Linked DNA regions of Homo sapiens. The protein of the gene in region 1 purifies or fractionates together with the protein of each later gene. This does not show direct contact. Each region holds a gene or a part of one and is shown in the gene's direction. Other genes may lie near its edges.

Region 1 (3,500 bases):
GGAATTCACCATAGCTTGCTGTCTTGCTGTGAAAATCTATGTTAAATTGTGATGCTGCCTCCCATTTGCATCTGGCATATTCTTTTCATTCTTCTTTCTTCCCACTTAAGGTAGGTTAAAGGCAGCTTCCTTCAATTCAATGCAACGCCACCAGAGCTCAGGCCACTCCTCAAACGCACGGGCTCACACCTTCCACATACTTGCAAAGCCTTTCAATGAGTATGAGGGAGAACAAAGGATATATGTAATACAAGTTAATGAATCAAAATCAAAAACAAAGCCCAGCATTGCCTAGAGACCCTGCCTTTCAATCTTCGCTTTCTCAAAGCCACCATTCTCTCTTCTGATATCCAAAGTCACTAACATTTATTGAATGGCCGTGACTTCCCAAATATTGAGAAACTCTAGCTATCATGACAAATCTAGAGGGCAGAAATTACTGTCTCTGTTTAACAGATGAGAAACTGAGACTCAGCAACATCAATTAATCTGTCCAGAGTTGTCCAGCTAGTAAGTAGTGGAGCTACATTTCAAACCTAGGTCTTAGTGCTTTTAAAACCTTTGCTTTCCACTGCAGAGTATTGCTGCCTGAATGAAAGAAGCAAATAAAAAAAATTACACATTTTTAATAAGCAGAAGTAGTGATGAGATTAAAGCACTCCTATTCTGATTAACCTTCTAACCCCTCTCCACTTTTGAAAGCCTAGAAACAAATAAGTAAGCTACCGTGGGCTAAAACTTGGGTATTTTTCTTTAGTTTTTTTAAATTATGATATCATATATATAATATTACATAATGTATGTAGCTATTTTTATCATTACTGTTTGTCACTTCTTCGGTTGTAGGGATTAACTTCCTGTATGCTGCAACTCATGAACTTGGCCATTCTTTGGGTATGGGACATTCCTCTGATCCTAATGCAGTGATGTATCCAACCTATGGAAATGGAGATCCCCAAAATTTTAAACTTTCCCAGGATGATATTAAAGGCATTCAGAAACTATATGGTAATATTTATTATTTCAAATAAGAGGATTTCCCATTTTCTTTTTAGAGTGGGGTAGGAAAAGAAAGGCTGGGAAATGGGTATTTACCTGGAAAACCACACTGGAACTCATATCAAAAAGCCTATTGAGGGGAGGAATTGGGGACCTTAGATACTTAAAATATAACTAGGCTGTAATATACTATGAAGATGTTGATTGTGAGTTTCAGTAACATAGTATCATGTGGTAAAATTATGCAAATGATATTGTCCAGATTTTCTTCAAGCTGCCACCCACTGCTCTTCCTCTCTCAGTTTAAATAGTTTAGGAGAGTGTCCCCTGTAGGGGTGGACTGAAGGGACAAAACACCTTTCTTCATAGCTGCCCACTCCTAAGGATTCAATCCTAGATAATTATAAGTGACCCTGCTCTTCCTGTTTGCACGTACATGTAGAGAAAGCGGTTAACCACGGACAGAAACTGCTTATCATTCCTGGTCTTGATACTTATGTATATCCCTTGCCCCAGTCTATGCTTTTTTGGTTTAATCAAGTTCCAAATTCAGTTTTTTTAAGTGCACTGATTTGGATTTACTGTATTGAGTCAGCCAAAAGTAGTATTTGAGAAAGAAATCAAAGGACAAGAATAAAAAGCTCTGTCTCTGGATAAAGATAAGGAAAGTAAGATTCAAAGAGGCTAAGTGGACTGTCCAAGGTCATGTGACTGTCGAGTGCTTGAGCCATGATTCCAAGTGAGGGCTATGTGACTTCATACTTTTTCTACGACATATTCCTGCCTATCACTACCCAGTAAGCTTTTTATCCTAGTAAGAATAAAAGAATACAGAATGACATCTTTAAATCAGCAGATATAACTAAACCTAGCCAGTAAAAATATCAGGATGAAGAGAATACACTGCAAAAAGATCACTTAAGATTCTTCAAATGATCACGTGAGCAATGAAAGTGCTTCCACATAATAGAGGACTGTCCTCAGGGGAGAAATATTCCAGTAAGACACTGGATTTAAGATATCAGTTCAACCTAGCATTTGCTATAAATCAGCATGTCCCAAACTGTATTCTCAGAACACTAGTCCTACAGGGTGATTCCCAGAAAAGGAGGCTATGGAGAAATAAGTTCAAGAAACACTACCTACTGTATTTCAGGTGTATAGACTATTAGAGAGTATGGAGTATTGAACAAATGTTTAACTCAGTGTTTCCTAAATTATAATCCTTTTTATGGGTCTCAATGAGTCCCATAAACTAGCACTTCAGAGAACACACTTTGGAAAATGCTGTGTAACTATTCCCAAAAGTTACGACGTAAAGAACCACTGCTGTCCAAAAGATTCACAAAATGCTGACTATTGTTCGTAAAGTTATCATGAACAAAACTGAAAATACTATCCTCCCCTTACATAAAACTGTGGAACTCATGGAATATTCTATAGCAGTCTATAAATATTTTAGAACCCTAAGAAAAATACAAAGAGACTAAAGAAGGTCTGAGGCATGCTGATTAAATTTAACAGGAAGAAAAGAGACTAGTGCATTAAAACCTTAAGTATTAGACAAAAGGGCATCTCTGGTCAGAGTTGGAAACAAGTAACTTCTGGACAAATGGAAATAGAATTTAATTATGTGGGCTGTATATGTAGGGAGTTAATCTAAAAAGTAATATGAGCAGAAAACATAGATTCCAAAGAAAGTGATTAAGATACAAGATTCCTAATGCTATACTCAGAATGATAAAAATAATAGCTGGCTGGGCGCGGTGGCTCACGCCTTTACCCAGCACTTCGGGAGGCCAAGGTGGTTGGGGATCGCTTGAGGCCAGGAGCTCGAGACCTGGACAACATGGTAAAACCCCATGTCTACTAAAAATACAAAAATTAGCCGGGCGTGAAGGTGCATGTCTGTAGTCCCAGCAACTCAGGAGGCTGAAGCATGAGAATTGCCGGAACCCAGGAGGCAGAGGTTGCAGTGAGTCAAGATCACACCGCTGCAATCCAGCCTGGGCAACAGAGTGAGACTCCATCTCAAAAAATAAATAAATAATAGCTAACATGCATTGAGTACTTGCAGTATCCCAAGACTTCACATGGATTAACTCATTTAATTCAAGAATTCAATGAGACATTATTATCCACATTTTACAGATTTGTAATCTGATGCTAAGAGAGGTTAAGTAGTAAACTACCTAAGGTCACACATCTAGTAAACTGGTAGAAACAAGATGCAAAGGTACCTGAGCCCTGGGCCCACACTCCAGTCAATCCTGCCTTCTTAGCCTCTGGAGGTTGTTCTTCAGAATCTTTGTCCCAGGGACAAGAAATGGTCTGAGTGAATAATAGATTATACTTTCTGTGACATTTCCTTTGCCTGTATAATCTTAGGATGGTTTTTATGCATTTTCTACATATCAGAATGTTCTTTTTTTTTCTCTCAATAGGAAAGAGAAGTAATTCAAGAAAGAAATAGAAACTTCAGGCAGAACATCCATTCATTC
Region 2 (4,061 bases), on another chromosome or scaffold:
CGTGGAAAACAAGATTTTAAAACGTGGAAGGCAAAATTTTACCTATGTAATTTCTAAATCTCTGATCTCTATATCAAAATTTCTAAATCTCTATATCAAAATTATTTACGCTGCTTAGGTTTAAACTATATTTTTCTGGGGGAAAATGTACATTGATAAAGTTAATCTAGTTTGAATTCCTAGTCATACATTGTAGTTCATCAATGTGAAAAATTTTAGTTAACTTACTCAGTATAACTTACCACTTTGTGGAAGTTACAATTAGACTTTTTTTCCCTGTAACTACACATTTTGAAAACAAAAATGCCAATTTTAATTTCAGAAGAATGATAACAAATTTTCTTCACGAATTCAGATAGTCAACTTGAACCAAGCAATAAAATTATTTTAATTCCTAGCTAGGGCTGGGAGAGGGGGAGTAGTGCTACACAGTGTATTAGGGCAGGATGTCATGGTTGTGGTGGTGATTCTGGTGTTTGCTAATTTTTACTGATAAGCAAATAACCTCTGTGTCTTAATTACTGTACCAGTCACATGAAGGCAACCTTTTCAGGCTAAAGTCACCATGGTGTACCTTCTTTATAAACTCTCAGGGGACTGATTTTTTTTTTCCTTTTTCTTCACCTTATACCAAGAGAGAAGGGGACTGAATTCTTTCAGCATTTCTGGATTGCCTTGTAATGAAGTAAATGAATCTGTTTTGGATCTTGGACTAAAAATATTAAAAATAATGTGTTACACTACAAAAGACACAGGCTTTTTGTCACATGGAGGCTTTTTGTCACATGGGTCTGGATCCTAATGCTAGGTGTGCCGCTTACTGATGACTTGTCCAAGTTACTTGTAAGCCTCATTTTCTTCAGGTACAAAATGAAAATAATGATATCTGCTTTACAGAATTATTACAAAGATTAGAATAAAATTAGCTGTATCTCTAATTTTAGCACATACTAGGCTTTCAATAAATTCTGCTGTTAGGTCTGTAATATCTTTAAATTTATTTAAGTGTAATATCTTTAAATTTTAAATACTTGGTGTTCCATCTTAAAATTTGGTCATTATAGTCTAGGTTTTCATTTTAATTTAATAATGGAAATACTCATCATGGAATCAGTTTGAAACCAGACAGATAAGGTAAAATATGTTAACCCATGGTAGCTAATGTCACTTGTTGCCTTAATCTTTAATACATAATACATATTAAGCTTCATAATTCTTTAAGTTGGATTATGCAGTAATTTGTGCTAATTCAGATGGTAGAATTGGTAAGAGGCTTTTAGAGCCTCTTGCTTATTGGGGTTGCAGAGGTATTTGTTGTTTGCATTTTTTTCTAATATACATAGCTATTCTGCATCTCTATTCTTGATCTTGGGTGGGAAGTATCATGAAGAAATTATGTCACCATTCTTAAATTTTAAAACTCATGAAGTTAATACAGTATTTTGAAAGTTTGATTAAAGTGAGCTGCTATCTAGTTTTCAAATGTTCCTACAGCAGAACCATTGTCTAGTTTTCGGTGGCAGTTGATTTATATTTGAGTCAGGGTTTTGGGTTTGTGAAATGCAAGTCTAGTGATGTGTGAGTTTTAAGTTCATTATTTTCCCCAGATTTTAATGAGGTTAGAATAATTTTATGTGTTTTCCTTTTTTTTTTTTTTTTAGACGGAGTCTTGCTTTGTCATCTGGGCTGGAGTGCAGTGGTGCAATCTTGGCTCACTGCAACCTCCACCTGCCAGGTTCAAGCGATTCTCCTGCCTCAGCCTCCTGAGTAGCTGCTACTACAGGCGTGCACCACTACGCCCAGCTAATTTTTGTATTTTTAGTACAGACGGGGTTTCACCATGTTGATTGGTAAAGATGGTCTTGATCTCCTGACCTCGTGATCTGCCCACCTAAGCCTCCCAAAGTGCTGGGATTACAGACGTGAGCCACTGTGCGCGGCCCTGCTTATTTTTTAATATAAATGTAATAAAGACAATTTGGAAAATTATTTCTAAACTTTTTTCATGGACAAAATCTTTAGGTTTTTATACTTCGTTGAAGGGGGCTTTATTTTAAATATCCTGTAATTTCCAGTGATTCAGAGATACAGTAATTGCCCCCTCTTTTTTTAAGTTAAAAACAATACACAACATTTCAGTGTCAAGTGGTCCATTAGTAGTCTCTTGACTTACACACAGAAAGCCTGTCTGTATTTTTTGTACTCATTGGTTAGAAACTACAGCACATTATTTTTCTTCAAGCTGTATTTTATGTAGAGGAAAAACAGTTGGTATATCTGTGTTGATGTTGATTCATATATATTGGGTATTTTATTTATTTTTATAGTAAAATGTATTTTGACAAATGTAAAATGAAAAGGGGAAGATATCTAAATTCTTGAATTTGTTTTTATAGGAGTTCCATCTGGAATATGACAAATTAGAAGAACGGCCTCACCTGCCATCCACCTTCAACTACAACCCTGCTCAGCAAGCCTTCTAAAAAAAAAAAAAAAAAAAAAAAAAGACTTCCCTTTTCTTGGGGTATGGCTGTCTCAGCACAATACTCAACATAACTGCAGAACTGATGTGGCTCAGGCACCCTGGTTTTAATTCCTTGAGGATCTGGCAATTGGCTTACGCAAAAGGTCACCATTTGAGGTCCTGCCTTACTAATTATGTGCTGCCCAACAACTAAATTTGTAATTTGTTTTTCTCTAGTTTGAGCAGGGTCTGAATTTTTTCATTTATTTCCTTTTTTGCCAGCAGACAGACTTGAGTCTGTAAAGACAAGCAAATACACTGACAGAAGTTTACCATAGTTTCTAAAATGTAAAAAAGAAAACCCCCAAAAGACTCAAGAAAATTAGACCACAAATTTTGCATTGTTCATTGTAGCACTATTGGTAATAAAATAACAAATGTTTGTGCATTTTTATGTGAAGATCCTTCTCGTATTTCATTTGGAAAGATGAGCAAGAGGTCTGCTTCCTTCATTTTACTTCCCCTTCTGTTTTTGAAAGGCAGTTTCGCCAAGCTTAATGCAAGAATATCTGACTGTTTAGAAGAAAGATATTGCCACAATCTCTGGATGGTTTTCCAGGGTTGTGTTATTACTGAGCTTCATCTTTCCAGAATGAGCAAAACACTGTCCAGTCTTTGTTACGATTTTGTAATAAATGTGTACATTTTTTTTAAATTTTTGGACATCACATGAATAAAGGTATGTATGTACGAATGTGTATATATTATATATATGACATCTATTTTGGAAAATGTTTGCCCTGCTGTACCTCATTTTTAGGAGGTGTGCATGGATGCAATATATGAAAATGGGACATTCTGGAACTGCTGGTCAGGGGACTTTGTCGCCCTGTGCACTAAAAGGGCCAGATTTTCAGCAGCCAAGGACATCCATACCCAAGTGAATGTGATGGGACTTAAAAGAAGTGAACTGAGACAATTCACTCTGGCTGTTTGAACAGCAGCGTTTCATAGGAAGAGAAAAAAAGATCAATCTTGTATTTTCTGACCACATAAAGGCTTCTTCTCTTTGTAATAAAGTAGAAAAGCTCTCCTCACTGCAGTGTTGGCTTTGATTTGAAATTGCGAAATTATTTCTTCAACATGAAAAATAGAGGAAACAAACTGAAGTTTTACAGATATCAAACTGAATGGTGTGACTCAAATGTCTTTTTCAGCTTCCAACAAGTAATTTAATGGAAATATAGTGAACCGTTTCACTTGTAGGTTAAAAATGTAGACAGTATTAATCAGAGAAAACTTTTTTAAATGGGTTGTGGCAGCATTAGAAATAAAACATTCTGAATACTCTTGGAACCCAACCAAAGTACTTCTGTGAAAAATTTATGAGAAATTTCTTGATAGACCTTTAAATTTATCTTTAAGAAGTAATGTGCAAATGAAGGTAAGCCATAAGGTGGGAATGGGTAGACTTTACCTTCAGTTTGCTGGCCTAGATATCTCATATTTACAAGTTAGTGGATTCTTTTCCCATCTAAATACAAATACTGTATTTTAAAAATCAGAAGATTGAAGCTTCCAAAGCAGAACTAGAGAG
Region 3 (3,500 bases), on another chromosome or scaffold:
AGGATCTTAGAAGTTGTATGCCAGGAAATGGGATGAAGACCAAATGTATATCTCACAATAAATATTACAGTAATGTTGAAGTAATTATTTGAAATATAAAAGTGGGATGGAAGTATTTTCTTTTCTTTTTTTTTTTGGAGGCAGAGTCTCGCTGTATCCCCCAGGCTGGAGCGCGATATCGGCTCACTGCAACCTCTCCTTCCTGGGTTCAAGCGATTCTCCTGCCTCAGCCTCCTGAGTAGCTGGGATTACAGGCGCCTGCCACCACGCTTGGCTAATTTTTGTATTTTTAGTAGAGACGGGGTTTTGCCATATTGGTCAGGCTGGTCTCGAACTCCTGACCTCAGGTGATCTGCCTGCCTTGGCCTCCCTAAGTGCTGGGATTTCAGGCGTGAGCCACTGCACCCAGCCAAAAGGATTTTCAAAGACGCTATCTAACATTCTTTTTTCTTTTTCTTTCTTTCTTTTTTTTTTTTTTGGGTCAAGAGTTTCACTCTTGGCGCCTGGGTTAGAGTGCAGTGGTGCGATCTCAGCTCACTGCAACCTCTGCCTCCAGGTTTCAAGAGACGATCCTGCCTCAGCCTCCCGAGTAGGTGGGATTATAGGTGCCCACCACCACATCTGGCTAATTTTTGTATTTTTAGTAGAGACAGGGTTTCACCATGTTCGCCAGGCTGGTCTCAAACTCCTGACCTCAGGTGATCCACCCACCTCAGCCTCCCAAAGTGTTGGGATTATAGGCGTGAGCCTATAATATTCTTAAGCTTTATATTCAGAACTCAGCAGTTTCCGAGTCAGATAATTAAACGTTTGTTCCCTTAGATTTATAGCTTCTAGGTTTTGCGTTTTTTTCTTAATTGATTTTATTTTTTAGAGCAGTTTTGGGATCACAGTAAAATTGATGAGAAAGTACAGAGGTTTCCTGTATTATCTCCTGCCCCAATACATGCTTTGCCTTGCCCATTGTCCACGCCCGCCCCCCCCCCCCCCCCCACTAGAGTGGTACATTTTTTGAGATACAGTCTCGCTCTGTCACCCAGGCTGGAGTGCAGTGGCGCCATCTCGGCTCACTGCAAGCTGTGCTACCCGGGTTCACGCCATTCTCCTGCCTCAGCATCCCTAGTAACTGGGACTACAGGCGCCCACCACCACGCCTGGCTAATTTTTTATAGTTTTTTAGTAGAGACGGGGTTTCACCGTGTTAGCCAGGATGGTCTCGATCTCCTGACCTCGTGATCCACCCGCCTCGGCCTCCCAAAGTGCTGGGATTACAGGTGTGAGCCACCGAGCCCAGCCTGTACATTTCTTACAATTGATGAATCTACGCTGATAGATCATCATCATCCAAATTCTCTGGTTTACATTAGAATTCACTCTTGGTGGTGTATCTTCTTTTTTTTTTTTTTTTTTTTTTTTGAGACGGAGTCTCTTTCCGTCGCCCAGGCTGGAGTGCAGTGGTGCGATGTCGGCTCACTGCAAGCTCCGCCTCCCGGGTTCATGCCATTCTCCTGCCTCAGCCTCCTGAATAGCTGGGACTACAGGCACCCGGCTAATTTGTTTTTTGTATTTTTTGGTAGAGACGGGGTTTCACCGTGTTAGCCAGGATGGTCTCGATCTCCTGACCTCGTGATCTGCCCGCCTCGGCCTCCCAAAGTGCTGGGATTACAGGTGTGAGCCACCATGCCCGGCCATGGTGGTGTATATTCTGTGGATTTGGACAAACTATAAGGCCTGGTTTTGCTAACAAGAATAGTTGCCAGGCGTGGTGGCTCATGCCTGTAATCCTAGCACTTTGGGAGGCCGAGGCGGGCGGATCACCTGAGGTCGGGAGTTTGAGACCAGCTTGACCAACATGGAGAAACCCCGTATCCACTGAAAATACAAAATTAGTTGGGCGTGGTGGCGCGTGCCTGTAATCTCAGCTACTTGGGAGGCTGAGGCAGGAGAATCGCTGGACCCTGGGAGGTGGAGGTTGCGGTGAGCCGAGATTGCACCATTGCACTCCAGCCTAGGCAACAAGAGCAAAACTCTGTCTCAAAAAAGAAAAAGAAAGAATAGTTAGCTGGGCCAGCGCAGTGGCTCACGCCTGCAATCCTAACACTTTTGGGAGGCAGAGGTGTACAAATCACTTAAGCCGAGGAGTTTCAGACCACCCTGGGCAATATGATGAAACCCCATCTCTGCTAAAAATACAAAACTTGAGGTGGGAGGATCACCTGAGCCTGGGGAGGTCGAGGCTGCAGTGGGCTGTGATCATTGCACTCCAGCCTGGGTGACAGACTCTGTCTCAAAAAAAAGAAAAAAAAAAAGTTATCTTTTTGTCTAGTTTCAGGCTCTTGTCTTTTTTGAAATAACTTTCTAACTAATCTCCATTATAGTTTCTTTATCATTGGTTTTTGGGTTTATTTCACAAATAATATGTGGATATTGTGATTGTAAAAGATTCTAGGACTGCAGTTAATTTTTTATATTTCTGCCAAAATGCCACTTAAATCATTGCTTTGGAAATATCCTTTCTTTGTTCAGAAGTCATTCTAATACCTTCATCTGGAATTATAAGTGTTGATTCCTCCTTCCCTGTGGTACTACTGTGTTGTATTATAGTCAAAAGACTGTTAAGCAGTGGTACCCAAATATATCTTTGTCCTCTTTTTTTTTTTTTTTTTTTTTTTTAAATGAGACAGAGTCTTCGCTGTGTCACCCAGGCTGGAATGTAGTGTCGCGAGCTTGGCTCACTGCAATACAACCACCTCCTTCCGGGTTCAAGCGATTCTCCTGCCTTATCCCCGCCGAGTAGCTGGGATTACAGGTGCCTGCCACACCACGCCCGGCTAATTTTTGCATTTTTAGTAGAGATGGGGTTTCCTCATGTTGGCCAGGCTGGTCCTGAACCCCTGACCTCAGGTGATCTGCCCACCTCGGCCTCCCAAAGTGTTGGGATTACAGGTTTGAGCCACCGCACCCAGCCTCTTCGTCTTTTTACATCTGGAATGTCATCTCTACCAAAACTTTATCATTCTAGTCCAAACTCAGGTGTACTGTCTATAAATACCTAATTTCCTTAAGCAAAATTGATTTTTTGCCATCCTTGGCCAGTTTCACTTAAGTGCACCCTACAATGCCTTTTAAGTTTTCTGTCCCATAGTGAGTAAGGAGTCTCTTTCCCCAGTGCATATATACAGTTGAACTGTAATTGAATAGTGCTTCATTTATTACAGTTGGGTAAATTGATAGAATATAGCATTCTTGGAAATCGATACTCTGGTTTTTCTTTTTTTCATACTGCTTGAATGAGCAAGTAACATTTCAGAGGAAAAGATCTATCGGTGGTGGTTCATTATGTAGGTCAGGATTTTAGTTTCATTTGTGCATTGGATTTTAGAATATCATGACTATCTCTAGTAATCTACAGAGTTAAACTATTTACATCTTGGCAATTTCTTGAATTAATTAGGGAGATCTTTCTTTACCCCCAACCTTTTATTTGGATAGAGTTTTCT
Region 4 (3,500 bases), on another chromosome or scaffold:
TTAAATTATTTATTTATTTAGAGACAGGATCTCTGTCTGTCACCCAGGCTGGAGTAGAGAGGCATGGCTCACTGCCGCCTCGACCTCCTAGGTTCAGTTGATCCTCCCACCTCAGCTTCACAAGTAGCTGGGACCACATGCCTGCTCCACCACACTCAGCTAATTATTTTTATTTTTTGTAAAGACAAGGTCTCCCTATGTTGCCTGGGCTACTCTTGAACTCCTGGGCTCAAAGGATCTTCCTGCCTTCTGCCGTAGTACTAGGAGTACAAGCATGAGCCACTGTGCCTGACCAATTTATTGTTTTTAAAGAGACAAGGTTTCACTATGTTGCCCAGGCTGGAATGCAGTGGCTATTCACAGCCATGATAATGGCACACTATAGCCTTGAACTCCGGGGCTCAAGCAGTCTTCCCACTTCCCTCTCTGGAGTAGGTAGCTTTGATACTGGCACACATCCCTATACCTGGCTATTTTTAAGCTTTTTATTTTAAATATTCAATATATGGATGACTGTCAAAGGCATTGTTGAGCAAAAGAAGCCAGACACATGGGAATTCATACTGTATGTTGATTATGTGAAGTTTAAGAACAAGCAAAGCCAATTACTGGCAATAAGTTGGATTCGTGGTTAGCTCTGAGGAAAGAACATTGACTGGGGAAAGGTACAAGGGAATGCTGGAATCCTGAGTTGGTAGAAATATTGCTTTTTTCTGTTTTTTTTTTTGTTGTTGTTGTTTTTTGTTTTTGAGACAGTCTCACTCTGTCACCCAGGCTGGAGTGAAGTGGAGTGATCTCGGCTCATTGCAACCTCTGCCTCCTGGGTTCAAGCAATTCTCATGCCTCAGCCTCCTGAGTAGTTGGAACTACAGGCACACACCATCATACCCAGCTAATTTTTTGTATTTTTAGTAGAGATGGAGTTTCGCCATGTAGCCCATGCTAGTCTTGAACTCCTAAGCTCAGGCAATCTGCCTGCCTCCACCTCCCAAATATTCTGTATTTTATACAATATTTTGTATTTTAATCTGGTTATAGTACATAATGTGTACATAGGTAAAAATTCAAGGTACACTTAAGATTAGTGCACTTAACACACTTCACTGTGTGTAAGTTTATATTAGGTTCCTATATAACCTGCTGCTATAACAAATTACCACAAGCTAGAAGGGTAGTGGCTTAAAACAATGGAAGTTTACTGTTTTATAGTTTTGGAAGTCACAAGTTCTAAATGAGTTTCACCAATCTAAAGTCAATGTATCAGGAGGGTCATGCTTTCTCTGGAGGATATAGAGGAGAGTCTTTTTGTTGCCTTTTCTAGCTTCTAGAACTGCATTTCTTGCATTCCCTGGATTATGGCCCCCTCCCTCTTCAGATCCAGCGATGTGGCATGTTCAAATCTCTTTCTGCTTGTCACATTGCTTTCTCCTTTGTGGTAAAATCTCTCCCTACATCTCTCTTGTTGTTGTTGTTGTTGTTGTTGTTTTGTTTGTTTGTTTGTTTTAAGAGATGGGGTTTTCTCTGTCGCCCAGGCTGGAGTGCAGTGGCATGATCATAACTCACTGCATCCTTGAACTCCTGGCCTCAAGCAGTCCTCCCACCTTGGCCTCCCAGAGTGCTGAGATTACCAGCATGGGTCACTTTGCCTGGCCTTCTCTACATCGCTTTTAAGGACACTTCGTTATTACATTTAAGGCCTACTTGGATAAACAGGGATAATCCCCCATCTCAAGATCCTTAACTTAATCACGTCTGCAAAGTCCCATTTTTCATTTAAGGTAACATTTGCAGAGTTTGGTGATTAGGGCCTGGATATCTTTGAGAGCCATTATTCAGCCTACTACAGTGTTATAACCCCAATAAAATAGTAAAATAATTCCACAGTTCATTTTGATGAGCAGCCAAGAAAGAGTATCATTATCGTGATTGTCTAATTTAAATTAAACTAATATTTTAATATCTCTTTTATGTAAGAGCTAATGAGCTCAAGTTGAGGGAAAAATTGAGGCCACATATAAGCTTCACAGCCAGGATATGTTTTATTACTGTTAGATAATCTTCAAAGAGAAGCGTGAAAATCTTATTTCTTCAAGATCTTTTAAGAACAAAAAAGGCCTTATCTCAGCCGAGTGCAGTGGCTCACGCTTGTAATCCCAGCACTTTGGTAGGCCAAGGCAGGTGGATCACGAGGTCAGGGAATTCAAGCCCAGCCTAGCCAAGACGGTGAAACCCCGTCTCTACTAAAAATACCAAAATTAGCCAGGCATGGTGGCAGGAGCCTGTAATCCTAGCTACTCGGGAGGCTGAGGCAGGAGAATCAGTTGAACCAGGGTGGCAGAGGTTGCAGTGAGCTGAAATGGAGCCACTGCACTCCAGTCTGGGCGACAGAGTGAGACTCCATCTAAAAAAAAAAAAAGAAAAGAAAAAAGAAAGAAAGGCCTTACTTCATCTGGAAGAGAGGAGGCATAGCTGAATAAATCATCTTGGCCTATGGAAAAGAGAAGAGCCTTAGATATTCAAATGAGGCTTGGATCTCAGCTGTGCCATAGTAACTTTGTCACTTGGGACCTTAACCTGGTGCATTATTGATTAACAGTTATACCGGGCACATAGTAGGTACTCTGTAAATGAGAAGGTCTCTGAGTTTTTAAGAATTTGATAATTACACGGAACCTACCCTTGTATGTAAAGTGAGAATAATAATGGTACCTACCTCATTGATTTATTATAAAAATAAGATAAGCATGTAAAGCCTCTAGAAAAAAAAACTGGTACAAAGTAATGTTCAACATGGTAATATTTATTATTCTTTGTACTATACATATATGATAAAGTTGTACATAATATACAAGGATCCCTGCTTGCTCAATTTTCTGACTGATAGTCATGCCTGGGAAAATGAGTAGAAAATGAGAAGATTAAATCTGAGCAACTTTATAAACTCTTCGATTTTGTTTTGCTTCAGGTTGCCACATTCATCCTCCAGAAGATCTTGTTAGATGACACTGGTTTGGCTTATATATGTCAGACGTATGAGCGTTTCTCCCATGTTGCCATGATCTTGGTGAGTTCTTTCATCTATCCCCTTTACAACTACTTCTCATCACAAAGCTTAATCTCTTTATAACTGGCATTGAACAACTTCAGTCCTCTGACTAGAACTAACAATTTTGGAACCTTTTATGATTCTTGGACTATCTGATCTCTGATGTCAATTAGAATTTGTTTGTGTTTTGTGTGTTTTTTCCAACCCCTCCCCTTATTTTGGGGGAAACAGGGTAAGATGGTCCTGCAGCTATCCAAAGAGCCTTCTGCCCGTCTGCTGAAGCATGTAGTGAGATGTTACCTTCGACTTTCAGATAACCCCAGGTAAACATTTATAGGATGTATAGGACTTTAGGGAAATACTCTGCTGAACAGTTTCCTAATCTCATGGCATAGCTCCTGTGTCTTTAGGACAGGGAAGTGGGGATATAACTGCATTTAGTTTGTCTGAGACA
Region 5 (3,500 bases), about 45 Mb from region 1:
GCTGTCAGGGTGAGCTGGCTTTGGCCCCCAGCCAGGGCTGCTCCCAATTCTGCTGCCTTGCTGTACTTCTGCTGCCGCCACTGCCTCCTCCCCCAATGTCTCTCCCCAGACCACTTTAATTTCCATCTGTCAGCAGCTTGTGGAAGGACAGACTACCACTCATGCTCTCTCTCCCTGCCCCCTCTTCCTGCTTGGTATTGACTCACCTGCCCCACTCTCCTCCTGCTTTAATCCCAGTGGGAACCTGGGGCCTGGCTTCCAGGCACTGCCGTGCCAGGCTTTCCCACACCTCTGTGCGTAGTATGAGTGTGTGTGTGTGGGGTGGGGGTGTGGGGATGCGGGGATGCGTGTGTTTGTGTCAGGTGTGGCTCTGTGCCGTGCCTGTAGATGTGGTGGGTGCGAGGTCCATCTGGGGGAGTGACAAACAGCGCACAAGCTCTCTGCCTGAGTGTGTGTGATGGTGATGAATGTGAATGTGTCATTTTGGGGAGTGGCCGCTGGACAGGGCGGGCAGTATGAGTTAGTGAGAGAGTGTGTGGTGTGCTTGTGCCGTGTTTGTATTTTGTTTTTAGATGGGGTCTTGCTATGTTGCCCAGGCTGGTCTTGAACTCCTGGGCTCACGTGATCCCCCTGCCCTGGCCTCCCAAGTAGCTGGAATTACAGGCGTGAGCCCTGCACCCCATGTCCAGCTGTATTGTGTTTTGAGGAAGCAGCAGACAGAAGATGCATATGCTGCATGGAGGTCCAAGGTGACCCAGCCCCTCATTTGCTTGGCAAACATTTGCTTAGTCCGGCGCGTAGCCAGGCTCTGGGTCAGGTGCTGGGGGCATAAAGGCAGAAAGGGCCCCGTTTTTGCCCTTGAGGAGCTCACCGACAGGCTATGGGGACAAAGAACCACAGGAAAGAAGCAGGAACTGGCATGGATTGGAGCCCAGGGCTGGTAGGGCTGAGGCGGCCATGGTGGCTGGGAGGGGGCAGGGCAGCTTCGGAAGCAGAATTGAACCAAGGGGACAGTACCACCAGGGACGGTGTGGTGCGGGGAGCTTTCCAGAAGAGGGAGCAGCTCGTTCAAAGCCAGCAGCATGTGAGGGCCGGGTGTCTTCTGATGGTCCCTGGTTGCTCTGTGAGCCTGGGGAATGAAGAGGCATAACGTGGGGGCTGAAGACAACATGAGTCCGGAGAGGCAGGTGGGCCAGTACCTGGCTCACCCCAAGGAGTGTGACTGCCCGAGCACGTGGCCCTGGGAGGGAACACATTGCTAGCATGCAACAGCAGCAGGAATAATGGCTGCTGCTTCTGCGGTGCGTGCTGACCAGGACTGTGCTAAGTGCTTTAGATTTTTCTTTCATCCTTGCAGCGACTCCGTGCAGTTAGAGGAGCCTGAGCTGTTTCCAGGGGAGGGGGCTCACCCGAGGTCTCAGGGATTTGAACCTGCCAGACTGGCTCAGCTCTTCACCTGTGTGCTGTGTTGCTCAAGGCCCTGACCGTGTCCTTGGAGTCTGGAAAAAGCATGGGAAGGAGGGCAAGGGAGAGTTTGGGGGCTGGGGGAAGGAGCTTGTGAAGTAGGCTTCAGGGCAGGGAGATGGGGCCTTACGATGATCTCGTTCTCTCTCTGTCCCCTTTACAGCCCTGGCAGGTGCCCGGCCCGCCCCCCACCCTCCGGCTCCCAGGGCCTGCTGGAGGAGATGCTGGCAGCCAGCAGCTCCAAGGCGGTGGCTCGGAGGGAGTCAGCGGCCTCGGGCCTTGGGGGCCTGTTGGAGGAGGAAGGAGCCGGGGCAGGTGCTGCCCAAGAGGAGGTGCTGGAGCCTGGCAGGGACTCTCCACCCTCCTGGAGGCCGCAGCCTGATGGTGAGGCCAGCCAGACAGAAGACGTGGATGGCACCTGGGGCTCTTCAGCAGCCAGGTGGAGCGATCAGGGGCCAGCACAGACTTCTCGGCGACCCTCCCAAGGCCCTCCTGCCAGATCCCCCAGTCAGGACTTCTCCTTCATTGAGGTCAGTGGAGGGTGAGCCCATGACAGTGGGTGGGTGAGGGCGATGCAGCGAGAGCCCCATTCCTGGAGCTTCCCTGAGCAGTCCCAGTCCAGGAGGCAGAAAGCGGGTTGTAGGTGCGTCACGTGAACGTGAAGCTCCGGCTGCAGGAGGGGTCCAGCTCCTGGTCAGCTACTGTTGAGGGGCTCCCGTGGGATGAGGCAGCAATGGCAGTGGTGTCACCATTGCCCCAAGCAGGACACCGAGATCCTCGACAGTGCCATGTATCGGAGCCGTGCCAACTTGGGGCGCAAGCGTGGGCACCGGGCCCCGGTCATTCGGCCTGGGGGTACCTTGGGCCTGTCGGAGGCAGCAGACTCGGATGCACACCTGTTCCAGGACTCTACAGGTAGGGCTGATGTATTATTTGGTGATGTCTCTTGATCTCTAGGGCATTAGGCCAAGCTTTTGCAGGGGTTATGGGTTCGGGGAGTCTGGGTGTGCTGCCTTTTCTGAGCCCCTTTCCCGGGCCTTTGCAGAGCCACGGGCATCTCGGGTGCCATCTTCAGATGAAGAGGTAGTGGAGGAACCTCAGAGCCGCCGGACACGGATGTCGTTGGGCACCAAGGGGCTGAAAGTCAACCTCTTTCCTGGCCTGAGCCCCTCAGCCCTGAAGGTACCATCTGATCATTAAGCAAACATGTCCAGCCATCTGGCCAGGTGGCCACCTTGCATGCTGTCTTTCTTCTCTTCATCCATCAATTCATTCCCCTGTCCCCCTCTCCCATTCCTCCTCTCACTCTCCTCTCCATCGAGGGCTCCAGAAGATCCCTTTGTGCCCCGCCGGGCCCTATGCTGTGTGCCAAATGGGATGGAAAGAAGAACAAGATGTGTTCTTATTCTGGAACCTCAGGGGCAGTGGGAGACATGATGCCCATAATTAGCCTGGATGAGAGAAGAAGTTTAGGTGTCCCTGAGGAGAGGCACAGATAAGGGCTGGGCCTGTTCAGAGAGAGAGGAGTTATTTCCTAACAGCAGAGTGGAGGGGGATGGGAAGGGAGGGTGGATTGGAGAAGGCCTCTTGTATGTATTTGATCTTAGCCGGCGGCAGGCACAGGAGTTGGCTCCTGGAGCTGGGATGGTGGGGTGGCATTGCAGGCAGAGGGAACAGGGGTGGGAAGTCACCACTGGCTTTGTCCCACCCAGTTTGTCTGAATTCAATCCTGCCATATGTTTTTGAGGACAGAAAGGTGTGCAAGGCATAGCTCAGTTCTGCGGGAAGTGCATCTCTAAGTGACTTCCCATCCTTTGGGGTGAAAGGACTGCAGAGGGGTCTCTGCTTGATTCTGGGGACTGCACACTCTTGAGATAAGGTCTTACCCCCTGAGAGTCCTACTGCCTGTCCCTCTACTATCTATCTGCTTCTGGACTTGCTTCTCAGGCCAAGCTGCGCCCCCGGAATCGCTCAGCTGAGGAGGGAGAGCTGGCTGAGAGCAAGTCGAGCCAGAAGGAGTCCGCGGTCCAGCGTTC
Region 6 (3,500 bases), on another chromosome or scaffold:
AGCTTAATTCAAAGAAAATTAAATAGTGCTATGTTAAAAGTAGGCAGAGTTCTTCACATTGTAGAAGTCAGTCTGGAGACTTGATTGTTGTAAATGTCCTTTTGTTTGTTTGTTTTACTGTTTTGTAACATAATCTGAAGGGTTTTATAAAAATAAATGCAGAGAGGTGAATTTAGCTTCACCACTCTTATTTGCATATCTGATCGCTTAGTAAATGGTAGTAATATTAATAGGATGCTTGCCTAGAATGAAAGAAGGGAATTTTTATAAGGAGGGTATGATCACTATTCACCCAGAATATAAGTATTCACTCTTACATATAAATCAACGCCTCATGTATCATTGGTTGATTTTGATAAAAATTATGCAATTTCAAGAAAGCAGAAAGCTCTTTATTCCAACATGTTTTTACCCTCACTGACAAAAATGACAACTTGAAAAATTATTTAGAAACTTGCATATGATAATCAGGGGTGGTATTTAGTGTCATTAGGGACAAAGTTTAGGGTTTTTTTGAGAATGTAAAACTGTACATGTTGGTTTTGTTTTAGCACATATGACAGGAACAAACTAAAACTATTCAATCTGTTGCCTTGTTCTGATAGATGTGTATGGACTCAGAAAAACATATGATCTACACTTTTGGTGGTAGAATTTTGACTTGTAATGGCAGCGTAGATGACAGCAGAGCCAGTGAACCACAATTCAGTGGCTTGTTTGCTTTCAACTGTCAATGTCAAACCTGGAAACTTCTTCGAGAGGACTCCTGTAATGCTGGGCCTGAGGACATCCAGTCTCGAATAGGACACTGCATGTTATTCCACTCAGTAAGAACATTCCGTACATTGCGTAAATGTTATTTTGTCATGTATATCTAGATAGGAAAAGAAGTGGTGAAATCTAATTCTTTAGGAAGAGATTAGTGTAGCAATGACAGAGAAAGACAAAACTTCTTTAACAGTGAACTGTTTGCTAATTATGAGACTCTTCCCATCAACCTGGTAATTCCTAAATAGTTACTACCTGGCTACCAACCTGGGCAATCTTATGACTAATTTCACTGCTTATGTAGATTTTGTAGCTATGTTCCTTTCTTATGCCTTTCCACTTACGTCTCTTAGTAATTAGAAGGACAATTTCTTACTCTGTTCTTATTTTCCCTTCTGCTATTCTCCATTAAGTACAAAGAATTTAAGATTTGATTTTATAGAATTAGAATTTAAATGTATCAGCAATGGTCAGGAGCAGTGGATCACTTGATTCCAGAAGTTTGAGACGAGCCTGGCCAACATGGCGAAACCCCATCCCCAGTAAAAATACAAAAATTAGCCTGGCGTGGTGACCTGTGCCTGTAGTCCCAGCCTCCCAAGTAGCTGGGATTACAGGCATGCACCACCACGCCCGGCTAATTTTTTGTATTTAGTAAAGACAGGGTTTCACCATGTTGGCCAGGCTGGTCTTGAACTCCTGACCTCAGGTGATCCACCCGCCTCTGCCTTCTGCGGTGTTGGGATTACAGGCATGAGCCACTGTACCTGGCCACTTTCTTGATGCTCAAATTTTTCTCTTTGGCTAGTAGGAGCACCCCCCACAACATATTTATGTATCTTTTTTTGTAAGAGAAAAATTAAATTGTGAATTCATACTGATATGTCTGATTCAAATAAAATATTTTTTATCTTAATGTCTTCTATTTTGTAACTTTATATCTTTTCTTTTTACCCCGACTGGAGCGCAGATCGTAGCTCACTACAGCCTTGAATGTCAGGGCTCAAATGATCCTCTCACCTTAGCCCCCCAAGTAGCTAAAACTACAGGTGTGTACCACCACACCTGGGTTTTGAGTAGTAGTAGTAGTAGTAGTAGTAGTAGTAGTAGTAGTAGAAGAAGTAGTAGTAGTAGTAGTAGTAGTAGTAGTAGTAGTAGTAGTAGTAGTAGTAGTAGTAGAAGTGGAAGTGGAAGTGGAAGTAGGAGACAGGGCCTTGCTGTGTTGCCCAGGCTGTCTCAAGCAATCCTCTCACCTTGGCCTGCCCAAATGCTAGGACTACAGGTGTGAGCCACCATGCCTGGCCTATTTTTGTGTCTTTTAAGGTTAAAATCCTGCTTCATAACATTAGTTGCTTTGTCTGTCTATAATAGCTTTCACAGTAAAGAAAACTAACAACAGAATCACTGAGTGCTGTTTAACGTTGCTTTCTGATTATTTTTCTGTTTAGGATTTAGACTTCTAGGGATGGGTAGTCAAAAAGTATGTATTAAAATCATTAGAAATACTATTTCTGTGTCTGAGTATATCTTTATATACAGATAGGTTTATTTGTTGGATTTTTTTTGCCCAAATTTTAGATTTTTTTTTTGAGTTAATTTTGTCTTCTAATTAAATAAAAGCATATACATTGTTCTAAAGTCAAAACCATACATCAAGGTATTATTTTTGGAGAGGTCTTCCTGCTCTGTTCCTGCCACTATAGGTAACTGTCTTTTATTAGGTTTTGGTTTATCCTTCCTTTGTTTTTCAAAAAAAGAAGCAATCTCTATTCTCGCTCTCGCTTGCGTGCTCTCTCTCTCACTTTTCCCCTCTCTCACATTCTCTTTCCCTCTCTCCCTCTCTTTTTGTCTGATGCACAGATATTCCTTCTTCTCCATTCCTACACAAAGGAAGAAGGAACCTGTATATATTATTCTGCACCTTGCTTTTCTTCTTTAACAGGATGTCCTAGAGATCCCCTTTTAGCAATATGTAGAGAGCTTCCTCTTTCCCTTTTATTCCAGCATAGTACTCCATTGGGATCTGTTATAAAATTACTTTTGTAGAGGTTTAAGTTTTTAAAGGATCATTCTGAGTTCTTCATGGAAGTGATAAGTTACTCCTTTCTTTTTTTTTTTCTTCTTTTTCAGAAAAATCGTTGCTTATATGTATTTGGTGGCCAGCGATCAAAGACCTATTTGAATGATTTCTTTAGTTATGATGTGGACTCTGATCATGTAGACATAATATCAGATGGCACCAAGAAAGACTCTGGGATGGGTAAGGGCATTGAGTGATTTCTTCTCTCATGTCTTAACTACTTTAGGTAGAAAACTGCAGTTCATTCTCTTTTCTTTCTAATCATTTTTCACCCTTTCTTTATTTCTTTAATTGAGTAATTCCAAGTAAGAGAAAGAAAATTCTACCAGCTTATTCAGTTCTATCTATTTTTAAATATGGGAATTACTATTTCCTTCAAGCAGAAAATATGTGAATTTCTAAATGAATTGTGTGTGTGCTTGTTGGGGGGCGGGGTAGGAAGAATCAATATCTTAAAAACTTTTTATTCTGTGTTTGCTAATTTTTTTCATCTTCTATTTTCACTGTAGTGATCTTTATATTAGGCACTAGCATAGTAGGGTGTGTGTCTTAAGGGGGGAACTTCATGGGATTGGTAACACCTTGTAAGTTTAAAAGCTCAGCATCTAGGAGGTTATTAGTAGTGGAATGGCTGGTTTGCTTAGATTATGCA
Region 7 (3,500 bases), on another chromosome or scaffold:
TATTAAATTGACTGAACCTCCGAAAAGCGAATTGTCAAAATCTTCACTCTCAAGATAAGTGATATTATTTGGTTTTCGATTTTTTAATAAAATCTTAAAGGCAAATAATTTTTCATTTAAAGCTTTAAACTCCAAGCAAAAACTTATTTTCTGCTGTCTTATTCCAGTTTAACTTACATGTGTAGAGCTGGAGCAATTCGGACAGATGATAACTGTATTGTATTAAAGGTAAGCTAATTAATTATCTTTAAAATGTGAAAATTATCCAGTTATGTGTTAAATATCAGTATTGATACTCATATTTCATTTTACACATTTATCATTATGATATATGTGCATGGCGTAGAATAATATTGAAAGACCATGCTTTCTTTTCAGTGGATGTCATATAGTTTTTAAAAATTGATTTTAGATGTGTTTCGAAAGTCAGCGTGAAATAATTATTTCATTGTCACAGCCTTTCATTTTATGGTAATTAGGAGGATGTGGAAATTGTAAAAGTGTACAATTCAGGTGAAACAGAAAATATATTTCGTTCTTGATTGTCATTAAATTTGTACTACAGTTTTAGAGGCAGACGATTTGCCACTTTTGCAGAAAAAGACTTTATATCATTCTCATAGCTGATAATCAAAAGGCATAATGAAAGAGAATAAGTAGATAACACATGAAAACAAGCATTGTCATTGTGATATGTCATATACAACTTGAATTTAGAAAAACCTGGAGAAAAGACCAGCCCTAAAAGTCCTAAAACCTGGATTCTGGTTTTAGCACTCCCACCTCTGACTGTACATCCTTTATTCTTTTGATGCCTCGGACTCCAGATTATGAAAATTGAAGCAATAATTCCTGCTCATCTATGCACAGGGTTATTGTGAGGATAACAATATATTAAATACATTAAAATGTCTTATTAGCTATAAAAAATTAAGTATAAGTAAATTGATGATGTGTCATTTTATAAATATGAGATCTCACATTATCATTGTTCAAAAGGTGATCCCAAGGATAAAAGAGCACAAAGAAGACTAATATTTGCTTTAGTCTTTGGGGAAGAGAATTAATTTAATGAGATCTGAACACTCCCTAAGTAAACAACTCTTCATAGAGTGCCACGGACTTCCATAGCATTTATCTTGATTTATTTACTTCTCTAACCTTCCTCTTTTTCTGCATTGGTAAAATGTTAGTAGTATATTCTTCACATAGTAGTCATGAGCATTAGATTACATAATTCATGAATTTATGGTATCAATAAATATTAGTAACTAGTAATGTTAGGGAAAAAAGAATAGGGCCTTCCCCTTGGAAACCTAGGGTTGAATTATAAAGCTTCTACTAGCCTAATAGGAAATTAGTAGTGAACGATGAAGTGCTAAGCTCTGTGGTAAAAGATATAATAGGAACTTATTATATATAAAAGAGCAAAGCACAGTTGCCTGCAGTATTTGAGGAAGACTTTCTATAATGATAACATTTCAATTTATACTTCCACATTGTCCTTTCAAGTGGATCCGTCAGGCTTAGAAATAGTAAATGTCGTTCGAGACCAGCCTGGCCAACCTGGTGAATCCCCATCTCTACTAAAAATAAAAAATTAGCCAGGAGTGGTGGTGGGTGCCTGTAATTCCAGCTACTCAGAAGGCTGAGGCAGGAGAATTGCTTGAATCCAGGAGGCAGAGGTTGCAGTGAGCCGAGATCGTGCCATTGCACTCCAGCCTGGGCGACAGAGCGAGACTCCGTCTCAAAAAAAAAGAAAAAGAAATAGTAAATGTCTGTAATATTTTTATTGAGAACCTAATGTAGATAAGTTACCAAACCATTGCCAAGATTTTTGAGGGACCTCAGAAGTAAAATTGGACTCATGGATACCACTGCTAATTCCAGCAAGTTACTGGGAAAACCTAGCAACTGTGATACATTTCAGTTGCATTATAGTAGAACTGGTGGAATCTGAGTAATGGTAAGATCACTGCAGTTTTAAAGCTGTATTTTGTTTTGGCAACTGTAGGTATGACTCCCCAAACCAAAAAATAAACGATATTACTCACTAAGGAAGAGATAGCATACTTTTCCTAAGGCAAAATCATTCCTGATTAAACTGCTGGGTCTTTTTTAGGTAAATAAATAGATAGATAGGGCAGAACCATCAGACATGATTTGTTAGGGATTCTTAAATGTCTTTTACAAAGTTGTACAATAAAACTTGTCTTATCGGTCCCAAAAGCCTAATTAGAATTTGTATTAATATACTTTGACGTACGAATAGAGTTTAATGTGCCAGTACAAATTATTAATGTGTACTGAATTTTGCTTGTTTTTGCATTTTAAAAAAATCTTTTATTCTCTAGAAGTCAGTAAAGGAAATATATGATCATAAACATTACTCCTGATAAAAGCTATTGAGTTGATTCAGTCACTATATGCTTAAGCTTTTACCTTTACCAAAAAGCAAATAATTAATCTCACTACCTTTCAGACATTACCTTGTTTGGTTCGAATGTGCAGTAAGGAGAGATTACTAGAGGAGAGAGTTGAAGGAGCTGAGACACTTGCCTATCTGATTGAACCAGATGTTGAGCTACAGAGAATCGCTAGCATAACTGATCACCTCATTGCCATGCTTGCTGATTATTTCAAGTATCCCAGCTCAGTGAGTGCCATCACTGATATTAAAAGGGTATGTTATTTTCCTTTTTTAGCAGCTCAAGGGAGATTTTTCTAAAGTTTTTCTTACTGTTCACAGTTTTGAACCAATTGATAACTACAGCTTAAAGCCCTTTTAAATAAAGGTTCTTTTATCTTTGGTAACATAGATAATATTGCTTTGTGAATTTTTGAATCCAAGTTGTTTAATGTTTATTGTCAGAAAGTTTTTACTGAGCAGATAAGCAATAAAGAAAATTGCATCCTAACTCCCCAACTAAACCTCAAAAGTAGTGGATTCTCCAAGCTGGGTATTGACATAACCGTATAATCTTATTCTTGGTCATGGAATCATCTCTGTTGTTACATTCTCATTCTTTAGGTCAGGAGTAATCTTTTTGTTACAGGAGACTAAGTTGTCCCATGTTACTTTCCACCACAGTCTATTTTGTTACCTTTCCCTATCTTCTCTTTTTCCCAGTTTCATACTGTGCTTTGGGCCTGCTAGTGACAGCTAAAGCATCATTTAATCTTGAATTTGGGACCAAAAAGGCCAAATTGTGCTTTTTCTGAAAACCTAAGTTCCTTAGAATAGATCGGTATTTATTTTGACTTGTTGCATCTCAGCCTGTTTGCCCTATCCATTTCTTTAAGCATAGGAGATGAACATTCTGTAAGAGAAAGTTTATTCAAGGAGGTCATGGTAGAGAGAACATTGCCTCTTAATTAGTAGCCAGTACTGTTTCATGAATGTAACTGTATTTTTCATGCCAGTGGTTCCAATGGTAACTATTCTCCTTTTGACCTCTCCCTCATGCTTTTGAGTTTCAAAAAACCTCATTTGGTAGGCA

Evidence for each region.
Region 2: the proteins of MMP7 (region 1) and CNOT2 purify together in Homo sapiens (affinity purification with mass spectrometry; 3 studies listed by BioGRID and IntAct, with this or other methods). This does not show direct contact.
Region 3: the proteins of MMP7 (region 1) and CNOT1 purify together in Homo sapiens (affinity purification with mass spectrometry; 3 studies listed by BioGRID and IntAct, with this or other methods). This does not show direct contact.
Region 4: the proteins of MMP7 (region 1) and CNOT9 purify together in Homo sapiens (affinity purification with mass spectrometry; 3 studies listed by BioGRID and IntAct, with this or other methods). This does not show direct contact.
Region 5: the proteins of MMP7 (region 1) and TNKS1BP1 purify together in Homo sapiens (affinity purification with mass spectrometry; 3 studies listed by BioGRID and IntAct, with this or other methods). This does not show direct contact.
Region 6: the proteins of MMP7 (region 1) and MKLN1 purify together in Homo sapiens (affinity purification with mass spectrometry; 3 studies listed by BioGRID and IntAct, with this or other methods). This does not show direct contact.
Region 7: the proteins of MMP7 (region 1) and ARMC8 purify together in Homo sapiens (affinity purification with mass spectrometry; 3 studies listed by BioGRID and IntAct, with this or other methods). This does not show direct contact.

Annotation. Positions count from the first base shown.
Region 1 is NC_000011.10:102,520,748-102,524,247, reverse strand, and holds part of MMP7 (matrilysin preproprotein), read left to right. Parts: intron 1-846; coding exon 847-1,008; intron 1,009-3,443; coding exon 3,444-3,472; 3' UTR 3,473-3,500. UniProt on the Homo sapiens protein: Degrades casein, gelatins of types I, III, IV, and V, and fibronectin. Activates procollagenase.
Region 2 is NC_000012.12:70,351,433-70,355,493, forward strand, and holds the end of CNOT2 (CCR4-NOT transcription complex subunit 2), read left to right. Parts: intron 1-2,396; coding exon 2,397-2,483; 3' UTR 2,484-3,561; downstream 3,562-4,061. UniProt on the Homo sapiens protein: Component of the CCR4-NOT complex which is one of the major cellular mRNA deadenylases and is linked to various cellular processes including bulk mRNA degradation, miRNA-mediated repression, translational repression during translational initiation and general transcription regulation.
Region 3 is NC_000016.10:58,619,827-58,623,326, reverse strand, and holds part of CNOT1 (CCR4-NOT transcription complex subunit 1), read left to right. Parts: intron 1-3,500.
Region 4 is NC_000002.12:218,589,339-218,592,838, forward strand, and holds part of CNOT9 (CCR4-NOT transcription complex subunit 9), read left to right. Parts: intron 1-2,965; coding exon 2,966-3,064; intron 3,065-3,277; coding exon 3,278-3,369; intron 3,370-3,500. UniProt on the Homo sapiens protein: Component of the CCR4-NOT complex which is one of the major cellular mRNA deadenylases and is linked to various cellular processes including bulk mRNA degradation, miRNA-mediated repression, translational repression during translational initiation and general transcription regulation.
Region 5 is NC_000011.10:57,300,953-57,304,452, reverse strand, and holds part of TNKS1BP1 (182 kDa tankyrase-1-binding protein), read left to right. Parts: intron 1-1,357; coding exon of another isoform or gene 1,358-1,484; exon of another isoform or gene 1,485-1,588; intron 1,589-1,627; coding exon 1,628-1,994; intron 1,995-2,228; coding exon 2,229-2,379; intron 2,380-2,509; coding exon 2,510-2,646; intron 2,647-3,411; coding exon 3,412-3,500.
Region 6 is NC_000007.14:131,442,876-131,446,375, forward strand, and holds part of MKLN1 (muskelin), read left to right. Parts: intron 1-605; coding exon 606-827; intron 828-2,898; coding exon 2,899-3,028; intron 3,029-3,500. UniProt on the Homo sapiens protein: Component of the CTLH E3 ubiquitin-protein ligase complex that selectively accepts ubiquitin from UBE2H and mediates ubiquitination and subsequent proteasomal degradation of the transcription factor HBP1.
Region 7 is NC_000003.12:138,239,301-138,242,800, forward strand, and holds part of ARMC8 (armadillo repeat-containing protein 8), read left to right. Parts: intron 1-167; coding exon 168-228; intron 229-2,482; coding exon 2,483-2,683; intron 2,684-3,500. UniProt on the Homo sapiens protein: Component of the CTLH E3 ubiquitin-protein ligase complex that selectively accepts ubiquitin from UBE2H and mediates ubiquitination and subsequent proteasomal degradation of the transcription factor HBP1.